Homo sapiens: one gene and its partners. The protein of the gene in region 1 interacts with the protein of each later gene in a biochemical or structural test. Each region holds a gene or a part of one and is shown on either strand. Other genes may lie near its edges.

Region 1 (8,822 bases):
TGGTCTCTGACAAATATTGCTATTAAAACACATACCTTTTGAAAATGGCAGTGTCAAAAATCATCGTATTATATGTGTATTATTATATTGTTATTGTCATTTTAGTTACTTTTTGTTTTACAATTCTTGCATTGTTTTTCACAGAAACTTCCTCTTAGATACCCAGAACGCCTTCAGGTAAATATTCTATTCTGCATTCCAAGAACTCACTCTAATTGTGAAGCACAAACTCCAAATGTGCGCTTCCCTTCTCTATGAAACAGCCTGCTTCACTTTTGCTGACGCATCATTTCTTTAGTTCAAGCACTGTCAGATGGTATTTGCTCTCACAAAACTTAGAGGACGGCACACTGACTTAGATAAACATTTATGTTAATAAAAATCTTATTTTTATTCCAGAGAAATAGTTAATTAAACAGAATGTGTTAACATGTTTATTTTAATGTATTCTTGCTTTTTTCAATGTTACACATATTCAAGCATGTGATTTACAGTTTGGTCTCATTTGATATGTTGAATCTTGAATTAGTTACCTCTACCACAACTTTCTATGAGCACAACTAATCCTACATTCTGTCCTGCAATTGGAATAATACCATTTAAAAATTATTATTTTTTACAGAATCCATCAGAGAGCAGTGAGGTAAGCTCTGTTTATGGGGAGTCAGGATTCTCTCTTCCTTTTGCTCTCTTTCAGTTAGCTGTCATGCATGTTGAATGTCTTCTTCTTTACAATTTTTATTTCCCTTCAAATGCATCCAACAACTCAAGTACCTGGATTGCTCTCTAAATTCTGTTTTGATGAAATTCCTATTTGACTTCTTAGCCATTTTGGTAAGCATAGACTTATTAAATTTACTGGCCTGGTGAAGAAGGAACTAATTAAGGTGTAGGTGTTCTTTAGATTGTAAAATTAGATCATAAAACTAAAACTAATTATTTGTTCTTCTAGCTAAGAAATCTGTTGGTTTACCGAATTAAATGGAGCATTTGTGTTCAAATGAGAATAATGTGGTTTTTTGGTGTTTTTATTATTTTTATAATTCACAATTTAATTTCAATAAGAAATTATCAAAGAAGGAAAGTTTCTCAGGCTTCTTCTGGTAAGTGTTATCCACTTATTCTTAAAAGAAGAAACATACTTTTATGGGAAAAATTATTTAATTTTTGTTTATAAAAATGTTTTTTTCACTGGGTGCTGTGGCTCACACCTGTAATCCCAACACTTTGGGAGGCTGAGGCAGGAGGATTGCTTGAGCCCAGGAATTCGAGATGAGCCTAAGCAACATAACCAAACCCCGTCTCTACAAAAAAAATTTTGAAAAAAAAAAAAATAGTCGGATGTGGCGGCATGCACTTGTGGTTCCAGCTACTTGGGAAGCTGAGGTGTGAGGGTCACTTGAGCATGGGCGGTTAAAGCTGCAATGAGTCGTGATAGCACAAGGGCAACAGAGCAAGAAATTGCCTTAAAACAAAGTGGTTTTTTGTTGTTGTTGTTGTTTAACCTAAGTTAATCAACCCTTCCCTTCATTCAGTCATCCAAACACCCAGAAAGAATATAAAAACAAGATATGTATATGTTAAAGAGCTGCTTTATATTTTAATTTGTACCTAAACGTTTGCCTCTCCAAAACACTCTGCTCTCCTTTCCGTGACGTATGTAGAGGTTTACAATTTCCTCACTCCTTATAATAGAATGCTCTTAACTATAAATAATACATATGTGTCACATTCTCTATAATTTTTGACTTAATTGTTGAATAGAAGAACATAACGTTTTAATTCAAGGACATTATCTAAATGATTTGATAGATAACTCAACTATGAATGAATTTTAACATAACTTTTTTTTTTGTAGCCTATACCATTAGAATCAAGAGAGGTAAGAATGACTCCACAGAATTTACCGTGCAATTAACAAAGAGAAGTAAGTGTTAAGATCAGGAGACTCAGAACAGTGCCTAAAACAAAGTGAAAGTCAAGGATAACAAATTTGAGTGGAACAAACTTAAAAATATTGTTAAATGCACATTTACATACTAGCCTTACACAAAGAAGGAGTAGGGAAACACCACTTAAAGGTTAGAAATGATACAATAAGGAATATTAGTTCATTTGTGAAAAATAAATTTATTTTTAAATTTGTATCAGCACTAATGAATTCTGCTGAGAATTCTGAAGACTACTGATTTGATTGACTTAATTGTGTAGTGAGAAAGACCACTTAAGGTTAGAAATGATATAATAAGGAATATTAGTTCATTCAGGAAAAATGGATTTATTTTTAAATTTGTATCAGCACGATGTGAAGTACAGTTTCTCATAGATTTCCACTCATGTATGTCTTGTTTCACTAATATTGTTTATGTTTTCTTTTTTATCCCTAAGGAATACATGAATGGTATGAACAGGGTAAGAAACATCAATGAAATTTAAATTATGTTAAAAGTTTGTTTTCATGAAAACATATTTTACAAGGTACACTTTATTGATTTTAGCAGAGAAACATTCTGAGAGAAAAACAGACTGATGAAATCAAGGTACCAAAGTTTTTCTTGAAAGAGTATGGCAAAAGTATATATTCTTGTAGTAGAAAAAAAGTTTTCCTTTAGGAAAAAAAAGCATTTTTCTATGGTTTTGTCCTTTCCTTGAACTTTTCACTCATACATTTGTAGTGACTAATGGAGTCTGCTGAGAATTCTGAAGAAAATGATTTCATTGACTTAATTGTGCAACTGTGATGAAACAAGGCATTAGTGTGAATGAATGAAATAACAAATAAACAAATAAATGCAATTATGTATTCACATTTATCACCAAAATTAAAGGAATGCTTTATCAAGGGTATTATATGAAGTAATACAATATCTGGCTCAAGAATATTTACATAGTCATACTCAATTATTTTCTTTAACCATAACATCTTTGATTTGGATTGTCTACTAGTTTTCTAGTAGAATTGGTATTGAGAGAGCAGGTGCTCAAACTTTATGAGATAAAATATATATCTTCTTAACAATCTGTCATACCTAACTGATTGACTGTCTTGGCAGGATACTAGGAATGAGTCTACTCAGGTGAGACCCTTTGTTTTAAAATTATTAAACCAATATGAGGAAAAGAAACAATACATATTTCCCCAAATAAATTATTATTTTAAATAAAAACTATGGCAGATAACTCTAATTCAAAGAAAGAAAAGAAATAGTGTATCATACATTGGCCAGAATAACCAAACCAACACAAATATTTTAAATTTAAATTCTATGGATAATGTCACTGATCTCTGTATTGCTGTAGTCGTGAAAACTGAGCAAAACATACTAGATGGAGCAAGTTCTTTTGCTTAGGTATTTACACACCATTAAATCAGTGCTCTCCTTTAGTCCAGTTGTATTTACTGCATGAGCTTCAGTGCAGTGTCCTGCTCAGAGTCCAGAAGCCAAGTTTTAAAAGAGGGAAAGCAAAAAGTCATGCTGGATAAAGGAAAATGTAAACTTGTTTTCACTGATTTGCTACAATATAGAAGAATCCGAAACGTTTTATTTAAACTTCAAAATGCAGATTCATTTGGCTCAGAGATAAAGTAGGCAGTTTTTTTAGTTTTTCTTATTACTTTTATATTGTCTCAGTTTTCTATTTTCTTTGACATCCATTTTATTTGGTAATCATTACTTTTGTATTTGACTATTTGTCATGAAAAATGAAATTGATTATTTTTTCTTTCTTAAGAACTGTGTTGTGGCAGAGCCTGAGGTAAGACCCATTCATTCTAGTGAACTCTACACTTACGTATCAAACATAGTATATGCAGCATGCTTCATTTTAAAAAGACTGTCTTCTGAAATTAAGCAAAATAAGAAACTGAATTTTAAAATGTTAACATTTTAATTTTAAATTAATCCTATTCTAATTTTAACTTATTGAACTTCTCAAACAGGAATATTATACTCAAGAATGTACAATGTTGTGCTAGATAAAGTTGAAATTGGAAGACGGAATTTAAGCCATTTAAATAATAATTAGTAAAAAAATGCTTATTCATTAAAATATAAAATAAAAACAAAAGGTGCATGGATGTTTAAAATGAGAGTCCCACAGAACACTGACTCTGACATCCCAGGGCATGAGATTACTTTTTTATTTTAGATACAAGTGCATGTATGTATGTAAGATTTTTACATGAGTATGTTAGACACAGGTAGTGAGCATACTACCCAACAGGTATAGGTTGGTGCAAAAGTTATTGTGCTTTTTACCATTAAAAATAATGGCAATACTATTAGGTTGGTGCAAAAGTAATTGCAGTTTTTACAGCGTAATGGCAAAAACCTCAATTACTTTTGCACCAACTTAATAGTTTGTCAACCCACGCCCCTCTCCCTCTCCTTGGGCAGAAAGAATCTATGGCAGCAATTACCTAGGATCAGTGAGCTATACTACCTACTCTACAATTATATTTTTTTAAATGCTGACTTATTACATATGGTTAATCAACCATCCCCAGAGATAAAGTCTGTTGAATATTAAAATTAATCTGTTAAAATATGTATGTATTTGGAAAGTAAAATTATATGTATATATAAATATAAACATAAATGACTTTGAAGAAAAAGTAAATATTTCAAAGTAAATATTTTAAAATCTAATGTAATTTTAATTTCATCTTAAGATTGTGCATTGTATTTAATGTTTCCATTTTATTCACATCAAAGAAGCCCCAAGGACAGATGAGAACAGATGTTTAACCCAGGGTTCTGGGTACCCAGCTAAATATGGTTCTTTCTTAGAGGTTTCATTTTTGTCACAAAAATCTATGCAAATTTTGCATTCTACTCAATGATAAACTTGTGTTTGTTTTCCTAAATTAAAAACAATTGTTTTTAAGTTTTTATGTTCCCAGATAAGTTATTAAACCTACCACCATAATTTTTCAAGTAAAATTCACACTCCAAGAAAATACAATGTAGTACGCCTGAATTTTTCCATACCACTTATTCAGTTATAATGTTACCATGGTAAGCATTTCACCATGATGACATGGAACTAGTTTCCTTCAAATTCTAAAAATCCCAGGGGATAATTAACACTAGATTTCTTTCTTTTAGAAGATGGAATCCAGCATCAGTTCATCGAGTGAGGTAAATAATTTTGATATTAATTCTGTGTCCCAACTAATTTAAAAAATTATGAAAACTTGTACCGTGAGGATTACATATCCCTTAAGGTCTCATTGTACAAGGCAGTGTATATGTGGCACTATTCTAGTTTTAGTATGTGAGTAGCTATCCAAAAGAAGTAAGAAAGCAATTGTTTGTCAGAGACAAATTGACAAAATTATTTCTGGGCAAACAATCTTATCTGGCCATCTGTGATGTCCAAATTATTTTTTTAACCAATTACTTTGTCCTTCGCAGATTTTGTTAAAACTCAATCTTATCATTAAAAATTCTAACAATTACCATGCTTATAAACCCATGAAGTAAACATTTCATAAACCATTTAGAATTTAACCAATTCTAGATTAATCAGACACTGGACTCCTCCAGCTACTCTCCACTCTTTGCCCTGTGTTAATCTTGAGAAAAAAAGTCAGCCTACAAAAAAAGTGGTGCGGTTTTTCCTTTGACTTTGGAAGAAGACCTTCATGCAAGTTACCAAAATAAAACCAACTCACTTAAGTGGGGTTTCTGTTAATTGAATAAAAATCATTACTTCACATCCACCCCCAGCATTCGGAGCAATGTAGTGGTTAAAGCAGTGAGAAAAGGAAAAGCAATGTGATTATAATATGTGGTTCAAATTATTAATCTTGTCTCAGTTTTTTGGGAATTTATCACTAAAATCAATTCACTGCAATTATTTAGTAATAGTTTTGTTGATTCATATTTTAACTTTAAATGTAAATTAATGTCGTGAAATTAAAACTATGCATGTTTTAATTTTTTTAAAGGAAATGTCTCTCAGTAAGTGTGCGGTAAGACATATTTGCTAAATTTAAAATATATTAATATTTTCCAGGATAATTAAAATGCACTTACTTTCACACACACACACACACACACACACACACACACACACACGGGAAAACATGCTATACCAATGCCATCTGGAAAGGTGGCATTAAAGTTTTATCAAAGGCAAATAAATATACCAAGGAATGAGTGAGAATGTTGTATTAATAAATTATTTATCCTTTTCAATATCTGCTAGACTTTATTGTAACTAGTCTGATGGGATCTAGATGTTTTCTTATTCCCCCTCTAAAAATAAAGCTAGCGACTTTTTTTATCCCAGTTATCTAATTCACAGTTTTAGTTGAATATTTGTAATTTATAGTCTCCTTTTGAATCTACATAACATAGTATTTAAGTGGCAGTCTATAGATCTGGTTACACTTGAGTTCAACTCATAGCTCTACCTTTTACACGTATGTGATGTTGAACCGTTCACTTTCCCAGTATAAGTCTATAACTTAATCCTAAAATGGCAATAATAATAAATATTAGATGATGTAAAGCAATTAATGTAATCCATGACACAGAGCAAACTGTCAATAAATGTTGGATAGCATTTGAAAAATTATTTTTCCCTGTCCATTTAATATTCTAATATAATTTGGCCAAAGTTAAATCTTCACAGTCAGAAAACAAAAAAACAGTTTTAACTTTCTTAATAATTCTGATATATTGTAACTAAAATTGGCTGTACTAATTTATATCAGACAGAATTATAATTTAAATTCAAGAAGTTGCTTTTTAAAATGTTTTTAAAAGGGAATAATGGAAGAGATCCAAATTATTTGGGGTAGAAATGGCACTCAGGTGTAATAGTTCCTCATTCTCTACCCTTGGGAAAGAGCATTGTTAGATTCTTGTTTCATCATATGAAAATGATGGGGTTGGACTGAATGACATCCAAGCAATTGAGAATATTTTTCTTTTTAAATAGGAACAGTTTTGTAGACTGAACGAATACAACCAACTTCAGCTGGTAATATTTTATTCATTATAATACAAAATCATATTCTACTATAGAATTAAAACATATTAAATTTTAAATTGGGGCCATTTCTAAATATATTTTTATTTTTCTTAAGAAATTATTTATTCTAGCCTTGACCAATAATTGGCAAGTTATTTGTATGATTGCCGGCATATTTGCGGGCAATGCTCATTCTCTTTATTCCTGGACTAAAGTTCTATATATTATCCATACTTACTAACCAGGGAGAAAGTGACTACATTCTACTGCAAATCCACTTTTAACCTCCCTGATGATACATTATGTCCTGGTTGAGAATTTCACAAATATGCTTACCTGTGAAATCACAGATATGTCAAATAAACTTTCCATTTAAGGAAACAGGATAGATTCTGGGAAAGGAAACAGGAATGCTAAACATCAGATTTGCTTCTGTCAAAACTCACATAATCTGCTTAACACTGGTTTTGACCCTTTTGAGTAACATAAAAGTCTTTCTTTTGGGAGGACAATAAAAACCTTTCAGTAACTACAAACAAATTTGACGTAATGAAGGCTTTGGGAAATGCTTGGTTTTAGTTCAGCAAAATTGCATGCTAGCATTTTTAATCGTTATCAATAGAGGAAGATGAAAATCAGTAATGAATTTAATATGGACCCTAATTGTTACTCTAGTTTCCATTTTCAGGTAACTTGTGTTTAAAATAGTATCCAAATAAATTTAAACACATTAGTACCCCAATAGAATTCATCATTATTGATCTAGAAAATTACCTGAATAATATATTTTAGTACCATAGATATGATATGGCTAGTCTGTAACCTCCACAACTGTTAGAACCTACTTGTCCTCCTGAGAGATTTTGTAGTATTTTACAGTGGTATCTCCAGTATTTAACATTGTCCCTGAACAAATGAAGGTACCCAGCAAATGTTTCTTATTAATGAGTAAATAAAATGAAAATACTAAAACAGAATGTTTTCTCCTCCCTAGCAAGCTGCCCATGCCCAGGTGAGATTATTTATTAAATCTAAAATATTTTAGTATTTCCTTCATGTGTTATGTTTTTATAATGCATGATTCTCTTTTAACATAAATATATTCTGAGAGAGTGTTCTACCAACACTATCTGATAATATTTTACTTAAAAGTCACAAAAGACAAAATTTAAATAATTAATAAATAGCCATAAATAGAAAAATATGTAGTCCTAGAGAAATGGTAGGTTATTATTTTTCCTCAGAGTATGAACCTTACTAATTGTTTATTTTTCCAAACTATAGTGAGCTTAGCCTTTAGCTAAAATTTTTTTCTGACATTAGAAAATAAAAAGTGTTTTGACATTTTTTGCTAACTGTGGCATAGAATACAGTCTATTCTAAATTTCATGAATGATGTTATGTATACTTCTGGTGCAATGTAAGATAAATGTGTTGTACCAGAAGATGTCTAAGTAATTTAGAATGTGTTTCCTTTTATGCAGGAGCAAATTCGCAGAATGAATGAAAACAGCCATGTCCAAGTGGTAATATTTTGCTTAATATATTACAAAACGATAATATTTTGTTAAGCTTAAATATGTTTGCTCTTAAATAGCCCCCTACTCTTGAAGAGATTTTTTTCTTCTCAAACATTTCTCACTCCCAACTTAAATCTCAGTTCTGACAACTTCTAAGCATATGACCTTGAGCACATTGTGTATTCTCTTGGACCTTTGGTTTCTCATTTGTGGAGAAAAACAATATGTGTCTATCAATTTATTTCCTCCTCCAAAACTCCCATGTCTTGATGTTTACAGTGACATATTGTGTCTTCACATTTAAAGATAATAACTGTA
Region 2 (7,931 bases), on another chromosome or scaffold:
AATAGTGAATTAATGCTCTCTTCAAATTACTTTTTTCTGTGACCCTTCTTATTCCATTTATTAAATTTAAAAAAGTGTTTTCTTTTTACATTTTAATTAATCTGTGAAATTGGAATTAAAAGTGCTCATTTATAGTGGCATTAGAAAAGTAAATATAAGTGAAAGTACCTTGTATGTATTTGTCACACAGTAGGTAGTCAATAAATATAAGGGCCTGAATCTTTTCTACTACTTTTACTTTTTTGGAGTTCATATTGTGTTGATGTTTACGGAGTTATATTTGACTATGTTTATATTTTTATGGTGCTTGAAACTAAAGGATTTAAATGAAAAACTGTATAGAAAAATTATGCAAGTTAGAGTTGAAAGTGTCTTTAAATTTTTATTTTATATAAATATAAACTAGTACTATATCTTGATGATGTTGGGTTTTGTTATAGGCTTTTTTTTTCTTTTTGTTAAAAGTTACCCTTTAGAATAGTAATTTTTGGAAAACTAGCCCTTGATGCTATATGTGTATGTTTTTTTGAAAAATACCCTTAGGTGAACTTGCTTTTCTAGGCCGCCATTCTTTTATTTATAGAATTGAAAGTTTGGTTGCATGATTGTTACAATCTTCCCAGGTCTCCAAATGCATATTTACCTCTGTCTCAGTGCTATCTAGGAAGGAAACCTCTTCCTGGAATAGTGGGTAGAGATTCACAAAATAGTGTGAATAATTGTGGTAGTAGATCTCTAGTTGTTTGGAACTGGCCACAAAGAGTTGTATTTGTTGAGTAGGTTAGAAACATGTCAGATAATAGCTACAGGCACACAGCAGCAGCAGCGATATTTAAAAGATATCAGATATGTAAATTAGTCTGTTATTCTTGTGTTCTAGAAAATGAAAGACACTCATATGGAAGATTTTCCCAAAGACAAAGAAACAAACCGGGATTTCCTACCAAGTGGAAGAATTGAAAGTACAAGAACTAGGGAGTCTCCACTAGATACCACAAATTTTTCTAAAGAAAAAGACATTAATGAATTCCCACTCTGTTCACTTCCTGAAGGTGTTGACCAAGAAGTCTTCAAGCAGCTTCCAGTAGATATTCAAGAAGAAATCCTTTCTGGAAAATCTAGGGAAAAATTTCAAGGGAAAGGAAGTGTGAGTTGTCCATTACATGCCTCTAGAGGAGTATTATCTTTCTTTTCTAAAAAACAAATGCAAGATATTCCCATAAATCCTAGAGATCATTTATCCAGTAGCAAACAGGTATCCTCTGTATCTCCTTGTGAACCGGGAACATCAGGCTTTAATAGCAGTAGTTCTTCTTACATGTCTAGCCAAAAGGATTATTCATATTATTTAGATAATAGATTAAAAGATGAACGAATAAGTCAAGGACCTAAAGAACCTCAAGGATTCCACTTTACAAATTCAAACCCTGCTGTGTCTGCTTTTCATTCATTTCCAAACTTGCAGAGTGAGCAACTTTTCTCCAGAAACCACACTACAGATAGCCATAAGCAAACAGTAGCAACAGACTCTCATGAAGGACTTACAGAAAATAGAGAGCCAGATTCTGTTGATGAGAAAATTACTTTCCCTTCTGACATTGATCCTCAAGTTTTCTATGAACTACCAGAAGCAGTACAAAAGGAACTGCTGGCAGAGTGGAAGAGAGCAGGATCAGATTTCCACATTGGACATAAATAAGCATATTCAGCAAAAAGGTCTGAAAAGCAAGGGAATACCATTATTTTCGGATTAGCGGTTTATTAAGCTCTTCTATATTAAACACTAATAGATATTCAATAACGGAGTAAACTGTTCCAGATAAAGCAAGAATAGTTGCAAGAAGTAAATTCTGGCACAAAGCGTAAAAATATAACAGAAGAAATAATGTAAAATACTATCTTTTATGTCTAAAGCCATTTTATATTACTTTTCAATAAAAAGAATATCATGGTCAACATAGAATATTTTTCATGAATTGGTGGGGAGATGTATATGTTTATATATAAAAAATAGCCAAATCGTTGCAATGATATGGTAAAGGACACATTTTTTTTTTTTTTTTCCTGTGAAATGTGGAATATCTCAAATTCAGCCTCTTAGGCTGAATAGCAAATCCTACTGCCAACTAACCTATTAAAAATATAGATAGTTTTGACTAAAGTACTACATTACATTTAGTATGTTGACTTTTAAAATACCAAAGCAATTTATATTCAATTAATGCTTCTTCATACACCAAGAATCTACCACAATACACAGCACACAAAGGCCGTTCAATAAACATTGAATGAATGAATGGTTTGGCTAGGGCCAGGGTGGGGAGTTAAAGTGAGAGGAGGGTATATGTTATAGAGAACAGTGGTAGAAGGAACTCTCCGTGCAAGTAAATTAAGGGAAAGATGGACACCAGAAAGGCAAGGTGATGGGCCTATAAGCATACTGGATAATGGAAGAAGTCCATTTCTTTCTAGCTAGTTTGAAGGGCCTAAAAGCACTGAGATGTTTTTGTATCTTCCCTACATTTGGAGATGATATTAGGTTGTCATAACAACCACAAATATAGACCATTACTAAATTGGTGGATGTCCTCTTTCTCCCATTGTTATTGCCTTCCTCTTTTGCCTGCTAAACTAAAAATTGGATATAAGATTGAGAATGTATTATATAATTTGCAAGACATAGAGGATGTTTATAGAATATACTAAAGTATCCCTCAGCACCAATATGGGAGTATCCTGGTCTCAAGTTTATAATTTTTGCACATATAATCTAAAGAAGAGACTTTAAAAATAAAGTACACAAATATGAACCAAAGAGTAGCTTAAAAATACTTTCTTCTAGGTCTGAAATTTTCTTTTCTTTCTTTTTTTGTTTTGGAGACAGAGTCTCACTCTGTCGCCCAGGGTGGAGTACAGTGGCGCAATCCCAGCTCACTACAACCTCCGCCTCCCAGGTTCAAGCAATTCTCCTGCCTCAGCCTCCTGAGTAGCTGGGATTACACGCATGCCCTACCACACCCAGCAAATTTTTGTATTTTTAGTAGAGATGACATTTCACCATATTGGCCAGGCTGGTCTCGAACTCCTGGTCTCAGGTGATCCTCCACCTTGGCCTCCCAAAGTGCTGGGATTACAGGTGTGAGCCATTGCTCCTGGCCCCAGCTCTGAAATTTTAACTTAGTTTTGGATTCCTTGGAATTTGAAAATATGCTAACACGAAGGATTGTAAATAGGTAGTTTGAGGTTATCAGGAACAGTAACTTGAAGCAAGAACATCAGAAATTGTTCACCATGCAAATATTTAGTACTCTGAATCAAGGAACATAGTATTTTTTACATGAGTATTCCAGTAAGGTAATTAAACTTATGAAAAGGGTATATAACTTTTTGTAAATCATTAAAACATTTTATAGTCCTTGTAATGATTTCAGGACCTTGGACAGCTAGAAGGGGCTTAAGAAAAAATGGCTAAGAAAACAAAGTAAATGGTTTTGGCCAGCTTAAAAAGAGAAAGCAAAATAGTTAAAAATACATTTCATAGATTGAGAATGTACGGGCTATGTCACAGTTACGCTACTTATTTTGTGGTTTTAAGTTAGTCTCAACATCTTTGGGCCTCAGAATCAACTTTTTTATGGGATCTTTTTTCTCTGTTTTTAAGATTATCTCTTTTTTCTTTGGTGCTTTGCAGGTTTACTGTATTATTTGGAAGTGCGAATTTATTTTTATTCTTAGTATATACTGGCTTCTTCCTGTATCTTTTAATTCATGTTCTGTAAAATTCTCAACCACTAGCTCTTCAAATATTTCTTCTCTATTCTAGGACTGTATACAAATGATAGACTTTCTTACTGTATCCTTCATGTCTCTTAATTTCTCATATTTTTCATCCTCTTGTTTCTCTTTACTGCATTTTGGGTAATTTCATCAGCTCTATCTTTCTGTTTACTAGTTCATTTTTCAGTAGCATCTCACCTGCTATTTAAAACAATGATGGTTTTAATTTCAATAAATATATTTTTCATTTGATTCTTTTTAACTTCCCGTTTACTCATTACAGTCCCTTGTAAGTCTGTTTCTAATTTTTAAAAGTCAAATATATGATATTTTTGATAATTTCAATATTTTAAGTCTTTATAAGTCTACATTTAAGGTTATTATTGCATATCATTGTGACTTATTTCCTTGAGTATGTGTTAATCTGCGAGAAGACAGAGGGCCTAAATTGTGTATGTTTTCCTTCAGTATGATTTGAGTTCGTTGCTTCTCTGGGTGAGGTGGTACAAACTCCTTGGCATACTCTATTCACCTTTGTGGATCCTGATTGAATGCCTTGTCTTAAGTGTAAGCTCCCTGACCCTTACTACTAGCCGAAGGTTTTGTCTCTGCAGGTCAATTCCAAACTAACAGGCAGATGCTGTTAGCTATCTGCCTCCAGGGATAAACCCCATCTTTCAAGCTTGCTTCTTGCTTGATGCTTTCTGCTGCTTTCTTGCTTTTGTTTCAGCTCGAGTTTGTTGTTGTTTTTTTTTTTTCCTGTTTCTGTCTTGAATGTAGAGGGTATTTTTATTTTTATTTTTTCTGTTTCTCTCTTGAGTGTATAGTGTAGAGGGGGTTTCTGTCTTGAGTGTAGGCCTGGAGATTTCCCTTATATGGTACAAACCAGCAATGAATTAAGAGGTCTCTTTTCTCCAAGATCTAGTGTTTTGTACTAGGAGAACTCTAAAAAGTATCTATTCCACTGTAGTGCCAAAGTACAAATTTATTTGGATTTATTTTTTGCCATCTTATTTTTTAATATATTTCTTTTTCTATGTTGTGCTTCTTTCCCACCTTTATCTCTCCTCCTATCTTTTGGGATCAGTTGGGTTTTCTATTTAATCATATATTTTCCCTTTACTGATTTGGAATGTGAATGTTACAAGTCCTTTTGATTATCCTTAAACATCTAAAAATGCTACCCTCTTTCCAAACAACACAAAGGTATTGAAATAACATTAATTCTAATTAAATTCCACAAGTTCTTTATTAAATCTCCAAATTGGATATTATTAGTATTTTATATAGTCAATGTTTATTTTTTTGATGGGACATGGTGGGGGCTTACCTTTTTTCTTGTGTGTCAGATGTTCCTTCTAGGTAGAATTCTTTATACCTTCTGAAATTATGTCCTTAGAGCTGTAGATTTAGAACTGACATCTCTTGAGCTGTTCTAAGATAATATCTTTTACTTTGGAGATACGCAGTTTTTATTATATGTCTAGCTATAGATTTATCATGGATTTAGGTTCATTATGAATCTGCAGATTTGTGTCTTCCATCAAATCTGGATTGTTTTCAATATTAAAAAAACTTCTATTTTAAAATCTGTATATAGAAAGGTACATAAACATAAATGAACATGTTAATGAGTAATTGTAACAACTATGTAACTGTCCAAGTCAAGAAATAAAACATATCAAGTAATCAAGAAGTCCAGAGTTTTCTTTGGGGTTTCATTACGTAGGCATGATTTATTAAAACCTTTACTGTGTGCTTGAACTTAATCTCCAGTTTCCCTCCTCTGTCTGGACATCAGGCTGGCTCAAAGTCTCAACACCCTAATCATGGTTGTTTTTTTGAAGTGAGCTACCTCCATCCTAAATCATCTTTTTAGCATTAGCTGTCTAGGGCCCACTGTGGGTCACATCATTAGCATACAGTGTCAGGGCTTACCATGAATAATGAAGGCACTTCTGTTGTTTAGGAAATTCCATGGGTTTTAGGAGCTTGGTGTCCAGGAACCCTGAACGAAGACCAGACCAATTATACTACAGAATCTTTTTTTTTTTTTTTTTTTTGAGATGGGGTCTCGCTCTGTCGCCCAGGTTGGAGTGCAAAGGTGTGATCTTGACTCACTGCAACCTCCATCTCCTGGGTTCAAGTGATTCTCCTGCCTCAGCCTCGAGTAGCTGGGATTACAGGCACCTACCACCACACCCAGCTAATTTTTGTATTTTTAATAGAGATGGCATTTCACCATGTTGGTCAGGCTGATCTTGAACTCCTGACCTCGTGATCTGCCCGCCTCAGCCTCCCAAAGTGCTGAGATACAGGTGTGAGTCACCACCCCTGGCCCTACTACAGAATCTTTTAAAATAAGTTTTGAGATGTATTATGGCCCCAAAGTGATCTACTTTAGTAAATATAGGTATGACTTGACTGACAATGTGGTTATGCTCAGATAAGCCCATTGTAAATTGAAAATATCATGAGTGAAATACATTTAATACATCTATGAAACATCATAGCTTAGCCAGGCCTACCTCAGACATACTCAGAGCAACTCACGTTGGCCTACAGTTGGGCAAAGTAGTGTAACACAAAGCCTGTTGACAGAGCCTGGGCCGGGCGTGGTGGCTCATGCTTGTAATCCTAGCACTTTGGGAGGCCGAGGCTGGTGGATTGCCTAAGCTCAGGAGTTCGAGACCAACCTGGGCAACATGGTGAAACCCTGTCTCTACCAAAATACAAAAAGTTGACTGGGCGTGGTGGTGCACGCCTGTAGTCCCACCTACTGGGGAGGCTGAGACAGGAGACTCGCTTGAACCTGGGAGGTGGAGGTTGCAGTGAACCAAGATCCCACCATTGCACTCCAGCCTGAGTGACAGAGCAAGACTCCATCTCAAAACAAAACAAAAAAAGCCTGTTTTATAATAAAATGTTGAATATCTCATGTAAGTATCATACTGCATATCAGTCACCGAATGGAATTAACAGCAGATACTGCTGGAGAAAAAATTAGTGCACTAGAAGTCAGAGCAATAAATTATTCAGAAAGAAACAGAGAAAAAATAATAAACACAGCATCTGTGAGCTATGAGACAACTTCAGGCAGGCTAATACATGTCTTATTCAAGTCCCCAAAGAAGAGAAGAGGGTGGGAGATGTAAAAAATATGTGAAGAAACAATGGAGAAATTTTTCCAAATTTGAGGTTAACTATAAACCCACAGGTCCAAAGAGCTTGGCAAATCCCAGGTACAATAAACGTGAAGAAAACTATACCAAGGAGTAACCTAATCAGAGCTCTTAAAACCAGTGATAAACACCATCCCTTGAAAAAGACATACTATTGCAGAAAAACAAGCAAAGCCAACAATTTTGAAAATATTGGAAGCCAGAAGACAGTGGTCTGACATCCTCAAATAAAGTAAAGAAGTGGGGGAAAAGTTGGTTAACTTAGATATCTTAAAAAAAAAAGGAAAATAAGAACATAAGGCATACATATGAAAGAACTCATGCCCGGTAGACCTACATTACCCATAAAATTAGAGGAAGTCCAACAGGCAGGAAGAGCACACCAGATGGAAATACAGATCTACACACAGAAATGAGGAGCACCAGAAATATGAGTATATTTAAAAGCTTTTTTTGTTTCTTATTTCTAAGTGTCTTTTTAAAAGTTGGCTATATAAAACAAAAATAAAAATTATTAAAAATATATTGTAGGATTACAATATATGTGGGAGTAAAATGTAACAGTACAAAGGCCAGGAGGGGAAGTATATAATTTTAAGTATAGAAATGGTAGTATATTATTGTAAGGCCCTTAAACTAAACATGAAGTGGTGGGTTACATCTTGAAGACAGACTGTGATAAGTTAGAGATGTATAATATAAACCCTAAAATAACCACTGAAATAGCAAAATAAGTTTTAATTAATAAGCCAGTAAAGAAGATAAGAAATAGAATAATAAAAAGCCACAAAATTCAATCCCCAAAAAAAGCTTAAAAGGAGAGAAAAGAGGAATAGGACACATGGGGAAAATAGAAAACAAATAGTAGGTTGGTACATTTAAGTCATATCAAAATCATGTTAAATATAAATGATCTAAAAACCTCAATTAAAGGGCAGAGATTATCAGATTGCATGAAAAAGTAGGACCCAA
Region 3 (8,822 bases), on another chromosome or scaffold:
CCTTCAACCCAGAAAAGGGATCTGAGTGTCAATGTGACATAAATGACATAGCAACAGTGTGAGGTCTCCCAATGAAGGGAGGTATTAGAAGAAAATCCAAGCAGTTTGATTTGGATTAATAGTTCTACCCCAAACACCTAAGAGAAATCGGAATTCCAGTACTGTCTCTTACAATATAGTCATCATCTATACACCTTTTTACCACGCCATATAAGCAAAATAAAGTCACAATGTGAAACTTTACTCCACTGGCTATTACCCTCTGGAACCAAAAGATGGAAAACTTCATTTGGGATATACAGTAATCTAAAGAAAAATTCAGCACTTATGAATGTAATAACTACTGTTACCATTTGAATGCCTCTTACAAACCAGGCACAGTATCAGATGCATATTCTGATTTTAGAAATAAACAGATTCAGAGGTTAAATAATCTGCCAAAAACAACAGGATTACTAAGTGGTGGAAGCCAGATCTGTTTAGGATCCAAAGCCTAAATAGGTTCTTTTCACTAAATTTAATACTATTTCCTTAGTTCTCCAAACTGATTTATTAACAGCCTATCCAAAACACTATAATAAAATGAACTGCTTTAAATTTGGAGGCAAGGTAGGGGTGGGATACTGAGTTTCAATAATCAGGTTTCTTCATTATTCTTTTACCTGAATGGGCTGGCCACCAGGCCACAATTGTATAAAAATCAGATTTTAAATGATGGAAAAGCTTTTCTGTGTGGCTACTGAAGGGAGAAAGGAAGACAACTGAGACATGCCCCACCTTGCTGGCTGGGGGCTGGTGACATCTGTGGGCCTCAGTGTTGGACTCCAGATGCAACAAAGCCTAAAGTTTTGAATATGTATGAAGGTCAATGTGATGTTTTCCAAAAACAGTCATAAAAGATGGCTGTGAAAAACCCCCTAGTATAACAACTGTATGTAACAAGAGCATATAGGTAGCTGCAGATGAATGCTCAGGTCCTTAGCTGTGGTGTTTAAAAATTCTTCAGACCAGGCTGGGTGCAGTGGCTCACACCTGCAATCCCAGCACTTTGGGAGGCCGAGATGGGTGGATTGCCTGAGCTCAGGTGTTAGAGACCAGCCTGGGAAACACAGTGAAACCCCATCTCTACTAAAATACAAAAAAAAAAAAAAGCCAGGCGTGGCAGCGTGCGCCTGTAGTCCCAGCTACTTGGGAGGCTGAGGCAGGAGAATTGCTTGAACCCGGGAGGTGGAGGTTGCAGTGAGCCAAGGTCGTGCCACTGCACTCCAGCCTGGCAACAGAGTGAGATGCTATCTCCCAAAAAAAAAAAAAAAAAAAAAAAAAAAAAAAATTTCTTCGGACCAGTGTGGTGGCTCATGAGTGTAATCTCAGCACTTTGGGAGGCTGAGTTAAGAGGACTGCTTGAGCCCAGGAGTTTGAGACCAGCCTGGGCAACATGGTGAGACCTTGTCTCTACAAAAAAAATTAACAACTACCCACAAAGAAAACCCTAGCTCAAGATGGCTTCACTGGAAGGAAAAATGAACTGGTCAGGAAGACAGACAAATAGAAGCAAATAATGAAAGCATTTTATTTGACATTGATAACCTTCTCACAATAAATTATGTGGCAAAATACATGCTTGAATACTTAATTGCTAGGCAATAGTCTATTTTCATTTTTTCACAAAAGGTAGACAACTCCAAAGCAGATGGCCATTTGTAGCCATTCTATATAATCATAAATACACAAAACACTGGCCGGGCGCGGTGGCTCACGCCTGTAACCCCAGCACTTTGGGAGGCTGAGGCGGGTGGATCACCTGAGGTCAGGAGTTTGAGGCCAGCGTGGCCAACATGGCGACACCCCGCCTCTACTAAAAATACAAAAATTAGCCCGGTGGGGTGGCATGCACCTGTAATCCCAGTTACTTAGGAGGCTGAGAGAGGAGAATCACTTGAACCCAGGAGGCAGAGATTGCGCCACTGCACTCCAGCTTGGGCGACAGAGCAAGACTCCATCTCAAAAAAAAAAAAAAAAAAAGTTTTAAAGTGCCGATAAATACAAGTTCCTGGTCTGCCTACAGTTTATCACTTAATAATACAAAGCAAACAAGAAAGCAAGTTAGTGGATTACCTGAGAGAGCAAGACATAGAGAAGATGTTAATGCAGGGAGCTGGCCTTCTCCAAACATATCCCTAACACACAATATTCAAGCAATTCCCAAACTGTGATCAGAGAACCACTGGGAGTAAGACCTCTGATCTATATTTACAAGTCTATAGGTGAGCAAAGGTAGACCTTTTCCTGAGTCTGAGATGGGAATATTACCTTCTCTATCTAGAAGCAAAAGAATCCTAGACTCACCAGGACTAGGTAATAGACACTGTACACGAGTAATTGAGGTAATCTACACTGGGCGTGACTTACATACTGATCCACCCCTAGGCAGCAATTCATACCTCACCCACCCAACAGGCTACATTAGAAACAAGGAAGTACAGGTCAAAAGTCTCATTAAAAAAATAAGAACTCTTGGCAGCAGAAAATGAAAATAAAGAATGAAGAATGACAGCACTGGCAATAAACACATTCTTTTCTCCGAAAGGGAAGGGAAAGAACTAATGTTGGGCACCCACATGCCAGACATTTTATCAATTTTCTCCTTTAATCCTCAATAATCCTGAGATAATACTAGCTAGTACTCTAGTTATTAATCCTCACAAAAATCCTGAGGTAGGTACTACTAATTCCCATGTTACAGGTGAAGAAACCAAAAGTTAGTAAGTTGCCCAAGGTAGTTGTTATCCGAACTGTAGAGACAAGAACTCCCAGACTTGAAGAGGTTAAGTAAACTTCCCCAAACTCAAAGTGGGAGTTCTTTCCCACTAACCTATTGCCTTCCCCTCCCTACCCGCAATCTCAATTAATTCTCTATTCTACCCCCTTCTCATTTCTGCAGCTGTTTCAAAAACTACACCTAAGATACAAAGCAAATAGGAGTTATTATAAGAAAACACCTCCAAAATCTACTAAGTTGTGGTATGATATGCCTGTTATCAGAAAACGTCACTCAATTTTGAGCTTGGAGGGCAGTGACAGTTTGGAGATCTTTAGCACAACGCCTGCCAGAAACGTGGCAGGCGCTCAGGATCTGCTGAATGAACAACATCTTCTGAGTGGTTATGAATTCAATAACCCAAAATGACCATCTCGTATTTCTGGATATGACATGATACCATTTTTTGGAAAATAATTTACCCATTCATTTTAAACAGGGTAGCTTTCTTAAAATTTATAGAACATTGATGAGATAGCTAAACTGAGAAATGCCCATTAAAGCATTAGTCATAACTTCAGGAAAATTTCAAATGTTCACTTTTCCAAGCAAATTAAAATGTTTCAGCTAATAAAAACCTGTCAGAAAAACCCACAAGACAAGAAAGTATAAAAAGAAAAGAGCAGCCAATATAAGGGCATTTAAGATGTCACACATAAAAAATTATAAAACATTAATCTAACTTGTACCTTGGTATTTAACCCTAAAACTGTCACCTCAGATAACACAATATTTTCTATGCAAGAAAACATTATCACCACGAATGTAAAGAAGCTTGCCGACCATAGCAACTGTTGCTACGTAGGGTTTTTTAATGTCTAAGACTGAAAGACAGAATTTGTAGAAACCAGTTAAAATGCCACTCTTAGCAGTATCTTGTGATACTGTGAATGCTTTCACCTTAAACTTTTTAAAAGACTCAATCTTTGACTTCTACATGTGAAAAAAAAAAAGTACATCTGGGAGCACTCAACGTAAGAAAACTACCAATTGTCTATAACCCAATGAAAATACATCCTTTGTTACAATGACAGCAGCTACTTTTCCTTAATAATCCTAGAGGAATTTCTTCATTTGAAAAGCTGGCTGGCCTAGATTTCTCTATAAACTAAATGACATGCTACTTTCGAAATTATCCATTTCAGAAGTTCAAAGAAATTCAGGTATAAGAACACATTAATACTCTCATGAAACAAACCTTATCCAGGTTACCCACGAATTGTGACAGATCAAAACCCAGTTTCTCATTTCAAATCAAGTATCACATTATTTATTACCTTAAAATACTAAGCCCTTACCTAATTCAATGGCAAATCATATTGGTTTTCAGTTTCTGAACTTGTACAAATCATACTGTAATATTTATGCAAAAGTTGTCATATAGTTGAATATTATAGACAGTTAACATCTTTTTTTTTTTTTTTTGAGACGGAGTCTTGCTCTGTCCCCCAGGCTGGAGTGCAGTGGCGTGATCTTGACTCACTGCAACCAACCTCCGTCTCCCAGGTTCAAGTGATTCTCAGCCTCCTGAGTAGCTGGGACCACAGGCACGCACCTCCACACTCAGCTAATTTTAGTAGAGATGGGGTTTTACCATGTTGGCCAGGCTGGTCTTGTCCTGACCTCAAGTCATCTGCCCACCTCGGCCTCTCAAAGAACTGGGATTACAGGTGTGAGCCACCATGCCCGGCCAACAGTAGAAAAGGGTACTCAGGGAACATAGTTCAAAAGTCATGATTCTCTATTGGCTGGACCAGGATTCTAGACTAGCTCTAGGGCTGAGATATCTTAGTAGACCAGTTAACATTCATGTGGCCCAATTTCCCTTACTCTAAACCCAAAGTCAAACATAACCTCTAAAGTCTTTCATACCCTGAAATGCTAATCTTGTAATCATCTTTCTATTCAGGTAATAACTCAAAAGAAATGGTCTCACTTCCTTCATCCTCTGACTAAAGTTTAGTTAGTCCATATTTTATGAATCCAATTAATAGGATACTTTAAAGAACAAAAAGAAAAGACTTTTCTTAAAAGCTAGAAACTCCATTCTGTAGTGATGATTCCCAGATCTGACTCTTAAACTCAACAACCTCAACAGACAATGACAGGGAGAAAAGATCTTACAAGTTTGAGCTGAGCTGGGGTGGGGTGGGAGGTGTGAGAGAACAGAGAGACAGTTACAAATTCACAAAAATGTATCACCCATTTCCATCTCCTCTAAAAAAATATGAAATAAGCCTTAAAAGGCTGTCATAGAAACCCATTATTAAGCCAATAAAAACTAATGAAGAAATTATGTCATTTATCCAAGATATGGAAGAACCACCTATTTACAGAAATCCTACCAATGTCCTAGACCTTCAGAAACTACATCTCACTAAGCTGACCATCAAGCCCCTTCAAACTGCATCTAAGGACAATAATAATATTCAAACATCAAGAAACAGGCACAGGTTCCACTCAACACCATTATTCCGTGGAGTCTTCCAGGACTAAATTGTTTTATAGAATCTTTGCTATCTTTGTTCTCTAGAAAATGATATCCCAAAGACTCTAAAATAAAACCAGCAAAACCCCTGTATTTGTTTTCCATTGTGTCATAACAAATTATCACAAACAAAACAACACAAATGGATTATCTTACAGAAGTCAGTGGGCTTGACTGGGTCTCACAAGGGCTAAATGAGGGTATCCAGTGGGTGGGTTCCCTGCTGGAAACTCTGGGGAAAATTTGCTTCCACATTCATTCAAGCTATTGGCTGAATTTAGTTCCTTGCAGCTGTAGGACTGAGTTCCCACTTCCTTGCTGGTTGTCAGCTGGGACTGGCCTTTCCTACTAGAGGCTGCCTGCATTCCCCGTCTCACACTTTCAATCTGGTCCCCTCCAGTAACGGCAGGCTGAGTCCTTCTCATGCTTCAAATTTGACTTCCCCTTCTGCCTCATCTCTGACACCAGCCAGAAAAAGTTCTCTGCTTTTAAGTGCTTATGTGAGTAGAATAAACCCACCCAGAAAATCCAAGATAATCTACCTAAGATCCTTAACTTTAATTAAATCTACTTAACATATTCATGTTCCAGGGTTTATAGTATGGAAATCGTAGGGGAGCCATTCTGCTTACCGCAGTCTGCCTTCTGGTTTCCAAGGATTCATCTCTCTCTCAAATGCAAAATACATCCATCCCATCCCAAGGTCCCAAAGGTTTCCCATCTAAAGCTTATCATTTCAGAAGTCCCAAATCTCATTCATCTATTCAGGTGTGGATGAGGTTCTGGGGACAAAACAGTAAGTCCAATTCCTGGGGCACAATTCCTAAAGAAACAAGTTCTCTACTCCCAACATACCACTGTGAGACATGTAGAGAATAACAGTTAGACATTCCAGTTCAAATGGGCAAAATGTAAAAGAAAACAGAGCCTCCGGTCCAAAGCAGTTTCAAAATCTAGGGAATCTCCATTCCATTTCAAAGCCTGGGAAAAATCCTCTCCAGCTTTTAGCTCCACCCCTCTGGGCTCTCCTATCTCCGTCTGAGTCACCCTGATTCTTTTATGAAAAGCAACACATTCACATGTGAGTAGTTTTATCAGCCTGCTTCCTATCAGTAGAATTTGGGGGGTCCAACAGCCCTATTACTTTCTGTCTCTTTCAATCCAAACTAGAACTGTTTATGTTGGCATAAAATTCTCAAGAACCTAATGGGCTGTGGAAGTATTCCACATGGGTCCACTCCATTAAAGTTCACATTCACAAATAAACCAGGCTGCACATTTAATACTTTGCTTGGAAATCTCAGCTAAATATACAAGTTCATCACTTGCAAATTTGGCTTTCCATATAACCATAGGATACAATTCTGCTAAACTTAGTTGCTACTATGTAACAAGGATCCCCTTTCTGCCAGTTTCCAATAAGAAAGACCTCACTTCTGTCTGGGCCCTCACTAGCAGAGTCATTAACATCCATATTGCTACTAAAAGTATGTCCTAGGCCTTTTCTTTTTTGACAGGGTCTCACTCTGCCACCCAGGCTGGAGTGCAGTGGTGCCATTACCGCTCACTGCAGCCTTGACTTCCTGGGCTCAAGCGATCCTCCTGTGTTCCAGGCCTTTTCTATCATGCCCCTCAAAACAATTCTAACCTTTATCTACTGCCACTTTCATTTTTAGGTAATAGTACCCCACTCCTGGTACCAAAATCTATACTAGTGTTCTACTGCTGCCATAACAAATTACCACAAATGTAGTAGCTAAAAATAACACAAATTTGTTATCTCACAGTTATTGTAGGTCAGAAGTTGGGTGGGCTTGGCTAGCTAGGTCTTTTGCTTAGGGTCTCACGAGGCCAAAAATCAAGGTGTCTCAAGGTTGCATTCCTTGGTGGAAACTGGGAAATTCACTTCCAAGCTCAATCAGGTTGTTGACCAAATTCAGGTTCCTTCTGGTTGCACAACTGAGGTCCCCATTTCTTTCTGGTTGTCAGCCAGGGACTGGTCTTTGCCACTAGAGGCTGCCCACATTCCTTCTGATAAACTTTCCATGTGGTCCTCTCTAGCAAAGGCAAATGGAGTCCTTCTCATGCTTCAAATCTCTGATTTCCTTTTCTGCCCATTTCTCTGATCCCAGTTGGAGAAAGTTCTCTGCTTTTAAGGACTTAAGTGACTAGATTCGGCCCACCCAGAAAATCCAGGATAATTTTTCTATTTTAAGATTCTTAACCTTAATTACACCTGCCAAGTTCCTTTTGCCATGTAACACAGGATAGCTACAGATTCTGGGGATCAAGGTATGGCACCTTGGGAAGAGGGAGATGTAATTCTGCCTACTACAAATCCAAGTCCTATGGAAGGGTTTAAACTCACTTCCTAAAGAAAATCATCCCTTTCTTTAACAGAGTGTGAAGTAAAGATGTATATATTTTACTTATGTGAAGTAAAGTATATATACATACATACATATGTCTTTACTTATGTGACACAAAGATGTATGTTCAGAGATAGAGACAATAGTAAAAACAAGGACTCACTCTGGATGAGTGAGTAGGAAAAGGACGCGCAGTATGGAAAAGGAGTTGCCACCTGTTTCATCCTCAAATTGCAAGGCACTTCACCCATAACTACTTAGAAACTAACCCATGCTCCTCCTTAAATGTGTATTTCTCTTCTCTGTATTCCACAAAGGAGTACATAACTAGGCTTTTTTTTATTTTTAAAGAAAAGTCACCTCACGGGGACCTAACTGTATAATCAGTTGATTAATCAATCTAAGCAAATTTCCAATCTTGCATTCTTTCTTCAAGTCATACACCCTCCCGCAATAGCAAACCAAAGCCAAGTATTTCAAAGTCACAGAAGGACAAAAACATGCCCTGCTAAGACTGCAGGTGAACTTTTGAGAATACCACGGAGGAGAACTAGTATTGGTACTGGACTTTCAGCCCCAGGTCCACCAAGCCAGTAAAGCCAAATGACTTACAACAAAACCCTACAACAACTACAAAGATACTACTCTAAAGCCCTGTCTACAGTCAAATTCTTGACTATAAATTTTACTTAGAACAGAAGAGCCCCAAATATACCAGCTAGTCCCTTTACAGTGACAGGTAAAAGCTACTTACTACACTTACTACCTGCCAGACACTGTAGTAAGCACTTGACACAAATTGTCTTATTTACTCTTCTCCGTAAACTCACAAGCTAGAAAATACCATCATCCCCCTTTTACAGACGGGAAAACTGAGGCTTAGAGAGTTTAGGTCACACAGCTAAGTAGCAATGGCCCTGATATTTGAGAACCTAGGCAGTCTGGTTTTTAACCACTGGGCCTACACTGCACTCCTCAGATGGAATGAAGTCTCCAATTCTTGGAAAAATCTTCCCTTCTTAGTTTTCTTTTTTCTTTTTGAGGCGGAGTCTCGCTCTGTCGCCCAGGCTGGAGTGCAGTGGCGGATCTCAGCTCACTGCCACCTCCGCCTCCCAGGTTCAAGCGATTCTCCTGCCTTAGCCTCCCG
Region 4 (4,569 bases), on another chromosome or scaffold:
ACATTTTCCATTGGCTGTTCACTCACTGGCCCAGCTCCCAAATTCACTCTCCCTCCCCCTTGACCTTTCTCCCATTGAAACCCTGTCCCATTGGTCCTCACCATTAGCCCATCTTCCCATGGCCCCTCACCAATTTTCCCACTCCCCATCCTTTGGCACACTTCCCCAAGTAGCCAGTAGCCTGCTCCCCACCAGCCTCCCACTACTGACCATCTGCTGTCTTGCCCCAGCCCAGGATGTGGCAGCTGGTGGTGTTGGCTGAGCAGTCCCTCTCCAGGGGAAGGGGCTGGATGAGTTCAGAGAGTTTGGCTGGGCGTGCCAGGCGCAACAGCATGATGTCCTGGTCATGGCTGGCGGCATCATAGTCAGGGTGGATCACAGCCCGGACAACAGAACTCTGCTCCTGGGAACTCTCCCTTTGCCGAAGGTTATGCTTCCCCAGGAAGACCTGAAGATTCCTGGGAAGGAAGAGGGCTGGGTCTCACCTGGAGCCCTTGGGCTGCAGTTGAGGCTTCAGAGAGGGCTGGGAAGTCATGAATCGCTGGCCTGCTCCTCCCACAGTCTTCCCCAGCTGGGTAAATGGCAATTCCATCCTTTCAGAATAATCTTGGGGGCTATTCTTCACTCTCTTTATTTCATGCCCTACATCCAAGCTGTCCAGAATTCCTTTTGCCTCTCTGAAGCATATCCAGAATCTGGCCACATCTCACCTTTCCCACGGCTACCATCTTGGTTTGAGCTGCCTTTTCACTTCCTACCTGAACTAGAGCAGTAGCCTCCTCACTGGGCTCCCTGCTCTGTCTCTGGTCCCCCACAGTCCATCCTCCACAAAGCAACCAGAGATATTTTAACAATGTAAGTTGGTCCTGTGCCTCCTCTGCTCAGCCCCTCCTATGACTCCCATCTCACTCAGAATCAAAGCCAAAGTTCTCAACGTGGCACACCAGGCCTTGCAAGCACTGCCCCATCATCTCACAGACATCTTCTCCTCCCACTCTCCCCTTCTCTCCCTCTGCTCCAGCCAAACGCTGGCTTCCCTGTCTTGCCTTGAACACAATAGTGATCTTCCCACCTCAGGGCCTTTGCACTGCTGTTCCCTCTGCCAGCAAGTCTGTCCTCCAAGTATCTGCATAGCTCACTCCCTCACTTCCTTTAAATGTCGCCTCTCAGGGAAGCCTTCCTTAGTTGCCCAATTAAAATACAAATACCTGTTAGTAGGCAATTCCTATCTCCCTCCCCTGCTTTCTGTTCCACCAGAGAACCTATCACAATCATCCGACCTGCTATATATTTATTGTTAAATATTTACTCATTGTGTTATTTCTCCTCCTTGCAGAGCAATGCTGTCCACTAAATGCTACGATGCCATGATCTCGATCTGCACTGTCCAGAGGTGGCTGGGGGAACCACAAGCTACAGGTGGCTGCTGAGTACTTGAAATGTGGCTTGTGGATTTTCCATTTCATTAATTTCAATGTAATTTGCTATATGTGGCTGATGGCTACCATATTAGACAGTGCAGCTCTAGGATGTCAAGATGGGGATTTTTGTTCTATTCAGATATAGTATCTCCAGTGCGTTGATCAGCACCTGGCACAGGATAGGTGTTTGATACATATTCCTGAAACAGAGAGTCACTCCCTTGCTCAGACATCACCCATGGCTCCCCATTGTCCTAAGAATAAAGCCTGGGCTCCTCCACTTGGCACTGGAGCCCCTGTGTGATCTGGCTGTAGTCACTTTCCAACCTTATCTCCCAGCACCTTCTGCCCCCCAGTGAACGGGAAATTTTATTTTCTGAGAATACTCAAGACGGTTCTCACCTCAGGGGTGTTATCACAGCCTTTCCTCTGCCCTGAACATTCCTTTTCCCATCTTCATGCCTCCGCTTGGATTTTATCTCATTAGAAAGTCCTTCCTGACCCTCCTCCATCTAAAGTAGGTACCCGTATTCTTTTCCTTCATAATTTGTAATTATATGGGGTTTTGAAGGGTTTGCTTCTTTTGTTTGTTTGTTTTTTTGAGACAGGGTCTCGCTCTGTCACCCAGGCTGGATCTGCAGTGGTGTTCTGTAGATCACAGCTCACTGCAGCTTTGTACTCCTGGGCTCGAGTGATCCACCCGCCTCGGCCTCCCAAAGTGCTGGGATTACAGGCATGAGCCACCACGGCCAGCCCAATTTGCTGCTTCTTTCTTTCCTTTTTTTTTTTTTAGACAGAGTCTCGCTCTGTGGTTCAGGCTGGAGTGCAGTGGCGCGATCTCGGCTCACTGCAACCTCCGCCTCCCACGTTCAAGCAATTCTCCTGCCTTAGCCTCCCAAGTTGCTGGAATTACAGAAGCCCACCACCACGCCTGGCTAATTTTTTGTATTTTCAGTAGAGACAGGGTTGAGCCATGTTGGCCAAGCTGGTCTCGAACTCAGGTAATCCACCCACCTCGGCCTCCCAAAGTGCTGGGATTACAGGCGTGAGCCACCATGCCCAGCCCTCACTTTGCTTGTCTGCACCTTTCTGTCCTTGTGCTCCCGAGGGCAGGGATGACGTGTGTGTCCCATCCATTGCTGAATCTCCACTGCCCAACTCGAATGTGGCACTTAGCAGGTGCTCTTAGTCAATGTACATCAAAGGAATGAATGATGGTGGTGAGAGTCATCCAAGGTCTCCTTGGGGTCAGGGGAACCACCCCAGGGATTGTCACTTGCTATTTCCCTGCACCTCAGTTTCCTCATTTGCAAAATGGTGCCAAGAGTCCCTTGTGGTGGGCATTCCAGGAAAGGTGTGTACATGGTTTCACTCAGCACCTGATTGGTAGTTAGCATCAAACAAGTGGCAGCTGTCGTGAATCTGACTAGTGAGGATCAGCGCCCAGGGTTTTTGTCCTGGGCCCTCCAGCTCCTCCAACTATGCCAGCTTTTTGGATGATCTCATCTAGTCCCATGGCTTTAAATACACCTGTTTGCTGACGATGCCTTCATTTTAACCTCCAGCCCTGACCTCTCCTCTGAGCTCCAGAGTCCTCCCTGGCCTCCCTGCTGGGACATCTCCCCGGCATCTCCAACTCATCGTGGCTAAAGCAAAATGTCAGATGCTCCCCTGCCTACACCCGGCCTGTTTCTCTTTCCCTCTCCCACAACTCAGAGAAAGACGTGGCAAAACACCCAGTTGTTCAGGACAAATACACGGAAGCCAGCCGTGCTTCTTCCTCTCCCTCCTGTTCCTCGTTGCCAGATTCTGCTGGCTCAGTCTCAGAATTCCACATCCCAAGATATTCAACATCCCTCCATCCCCACTGCGACCGCCTGGGTTCAAGCCACCCTCCTATGTCGCCGGATGAAAGCAACAGCCCCCACGTGGGCCTCCCTCCCTCTCTCTTGCCCAGACCACGTTCCACGTGGTAGCCAGGGTGCTTGTAAAAATGTAAATCAGGCTGGGTGTGGTGGTGGCTCATGCCTGTAATCCCAGCTCTTTGGGAGGGCGAGGCGGGCGGATCACCTGAGGTCAGGAGTTCGAGACCAGCCTGGCCAACATGGTGAAACCCCGTCTCTACCAAACATACAAAAATTAGCCAGGCAAGGTGGTGCACACCTGTAATCTCAGCTACTTGGGGTGCTGAGGCAGGAGAATCGCTGGAACCTGGGAGGCAGAGGTTGCAGTGAGCTGAGATCATGCCACTACACTCCAGCCTGGGTGACAGAGCGAGACTGTGTCTCAAAAAACAAACAAACAACAAAAACAAAACTGCCCAGTGGCTTCCTACTGTGCTCAGAATTAAATCCAAATGCCCATCACGCCCTGCAGGTCCCCAAATGATCCAATTCCCCCATTAGAAAGTAAGTTCAGGAAAACAGCAATTTTGCTTGTTTTTTTTTGTTTTCTTTTTTTTATTTTCTTTTCCACTGCTATGCCCGCAGGGCCTGGCACACATTAAGTACTCAATTAAGCAACAGCCGAATGCACCTGGCTATCAGATGGCCTCGTGCTGGGATGGGGGGGATGCCTATGTCACCTCCTGCCTGACATCTATAAGACACCCTCAGGGTTCAGTCGCATCTGCTGTTCATTTACAGTGTAGACTCACGGTTTTTTGCAGTGGGCAGCTGTGAGGACCCACAGTGGATGGATAAGGACCCCACCACAGAGCAAGTGGCCCGAGGTGTAGAGGGCAGCTTGGTAGGGGTGAGATGTCTTGTCGCAGGGTCCGCCATGCACCAACTTATTCTGCTCCTCTGCCCAGGCTGAGGGAGAGAAGATCTGAGTCAGAGAGGAGTTCTGGAGAAACCAAGCGCATCCCCCTCAACATGAACTCCAGTCAAGATTGGTCAGGTGCAGTGGCTTATGCCTGTAATCCCAGCTGAGGCAGGAGGATCGCTTGAGCCCAGGAGTTTGAGACCAGCCTCGGTAACACAGTGAGACCTCATCTCCACACACACACACACACACACACACACACACACACACACAAATTAGCAGGGTATGGTGGCATACGCCTGTAGTCCCAGCTACTTGGGAGGCTGAGGTGGGAGGGTCACTTGAGACCCAAGAGTTCAAGTCTGCAGTGAACTATGGATCA

What was found.
Region 2: the proteins of CSN1S1 (region 1) and POLI form a complex in vitro, tested with the Homo sapiens proteins (one large-scale study listed by BioGRID).
Region 3: the proteins of CSN1S1 (region 1) and CSNK2A1 form a complex in vitro, tested with the Homo sapiens proteins (2 studies listed by BioGRID, with this or other methods).
Region 4: of the proteins of CSN1S1 (region 1) and KLK6, one has a biochemical effect on the other in vitro, tested with the Homo sapiens proteins (one study listed by IntAct).

Annotation. Positions count from the first base shown.
Region 1 is NC_000004.12:69,934,068-69,942,889, forward strand, and holds part of CSN1S1 (alpha-S1-casein isoform 1 precursor), read left to right. Parts: intron 1-144; coding exon 145-177; intron 178-622; coding exon 623-643; intron 644-1,858; coding exon 1,859-1,882; intron 1,883-2,388; coding exon 2,389-2,412; intron 2,413-2,498; coding exon 2,499-2,540; intron 2,541-3,053; coding exon 3,054-3,077; intron 3,078-3,732; coding exon 3,733-3,756; intron 3,757-5,108; coding exon 5,109-5,141; intron 5,142-5,953; coding exon 5,954-5,977; intron 5,978-6,951; coding exon 6,952-6,993; intron 6,994-7,978; coding exon 7,979-7,996; intron 7,997-8,468; coding exon 8,469-8,510; intron 8,511-8,822. UniProt on the Homo sapiens protein: Important role in the capacity of milk to transport calcium phosphate. Casoxin D acts as opioid antagonist and has vasorelaxing activity mediated by bradykinin B1 receptors.
Region 2 is NC_000018.10:54,292,769-54,300,699, forward strand, and holds the end of POLI (DNA polymerase iota isoform a (long)), read left to right. Parts: intron 1-880; coding exon 881-1,699; 3' UTR 1,700-5,466; downstream 5,467-7,931. UniProt on the Homo sapiens protein: Error-prone DNA polymerase specifically involved in DNA repair. Plays an important role in translesion synthesis, where the normal high-fidelity DNA polymerases cannot proceed and DNA synthesis stalls. Favors Hoogsteen base-pairing in the active site.
Region 3 is NC_000020.11:533,737-542,558, forward strand, and holds part of CSNK2A1 (casein kinase II subunit alpha), read right to left. Parts: intron 1-8,822. UniProt on the Homo sapiens protein: Catalytic subunit of a constitutively active serine/threonine-protein kinase complex that phosphorylates a large number of substrates containing acidic residues C-terminal to the phosphorylated serine or threonine.
Region 4 is NC_000019.10:50,963,092-50,967,660, forward strand, and holds part of KLK6 (kallikrein-6 isoform A preproprotein), read right to left. Parts: intron 4,406-4,569; exon of another isoform or gene 4,235-4,405; coding exon 4,078-4,234; intron 1,420-4,077; exon of another isoform or gene 1,337-1,419; intron 576-1,336; exon of another isoform or gene 465-575; intron 459-464; coding exon 211-458; intron 1-210. UniProt on the Homo sapiens protein: Serine protease which exhibits a preference for Arg over Lys in the substrate P1 position and for Ser or Pro in the P2 position.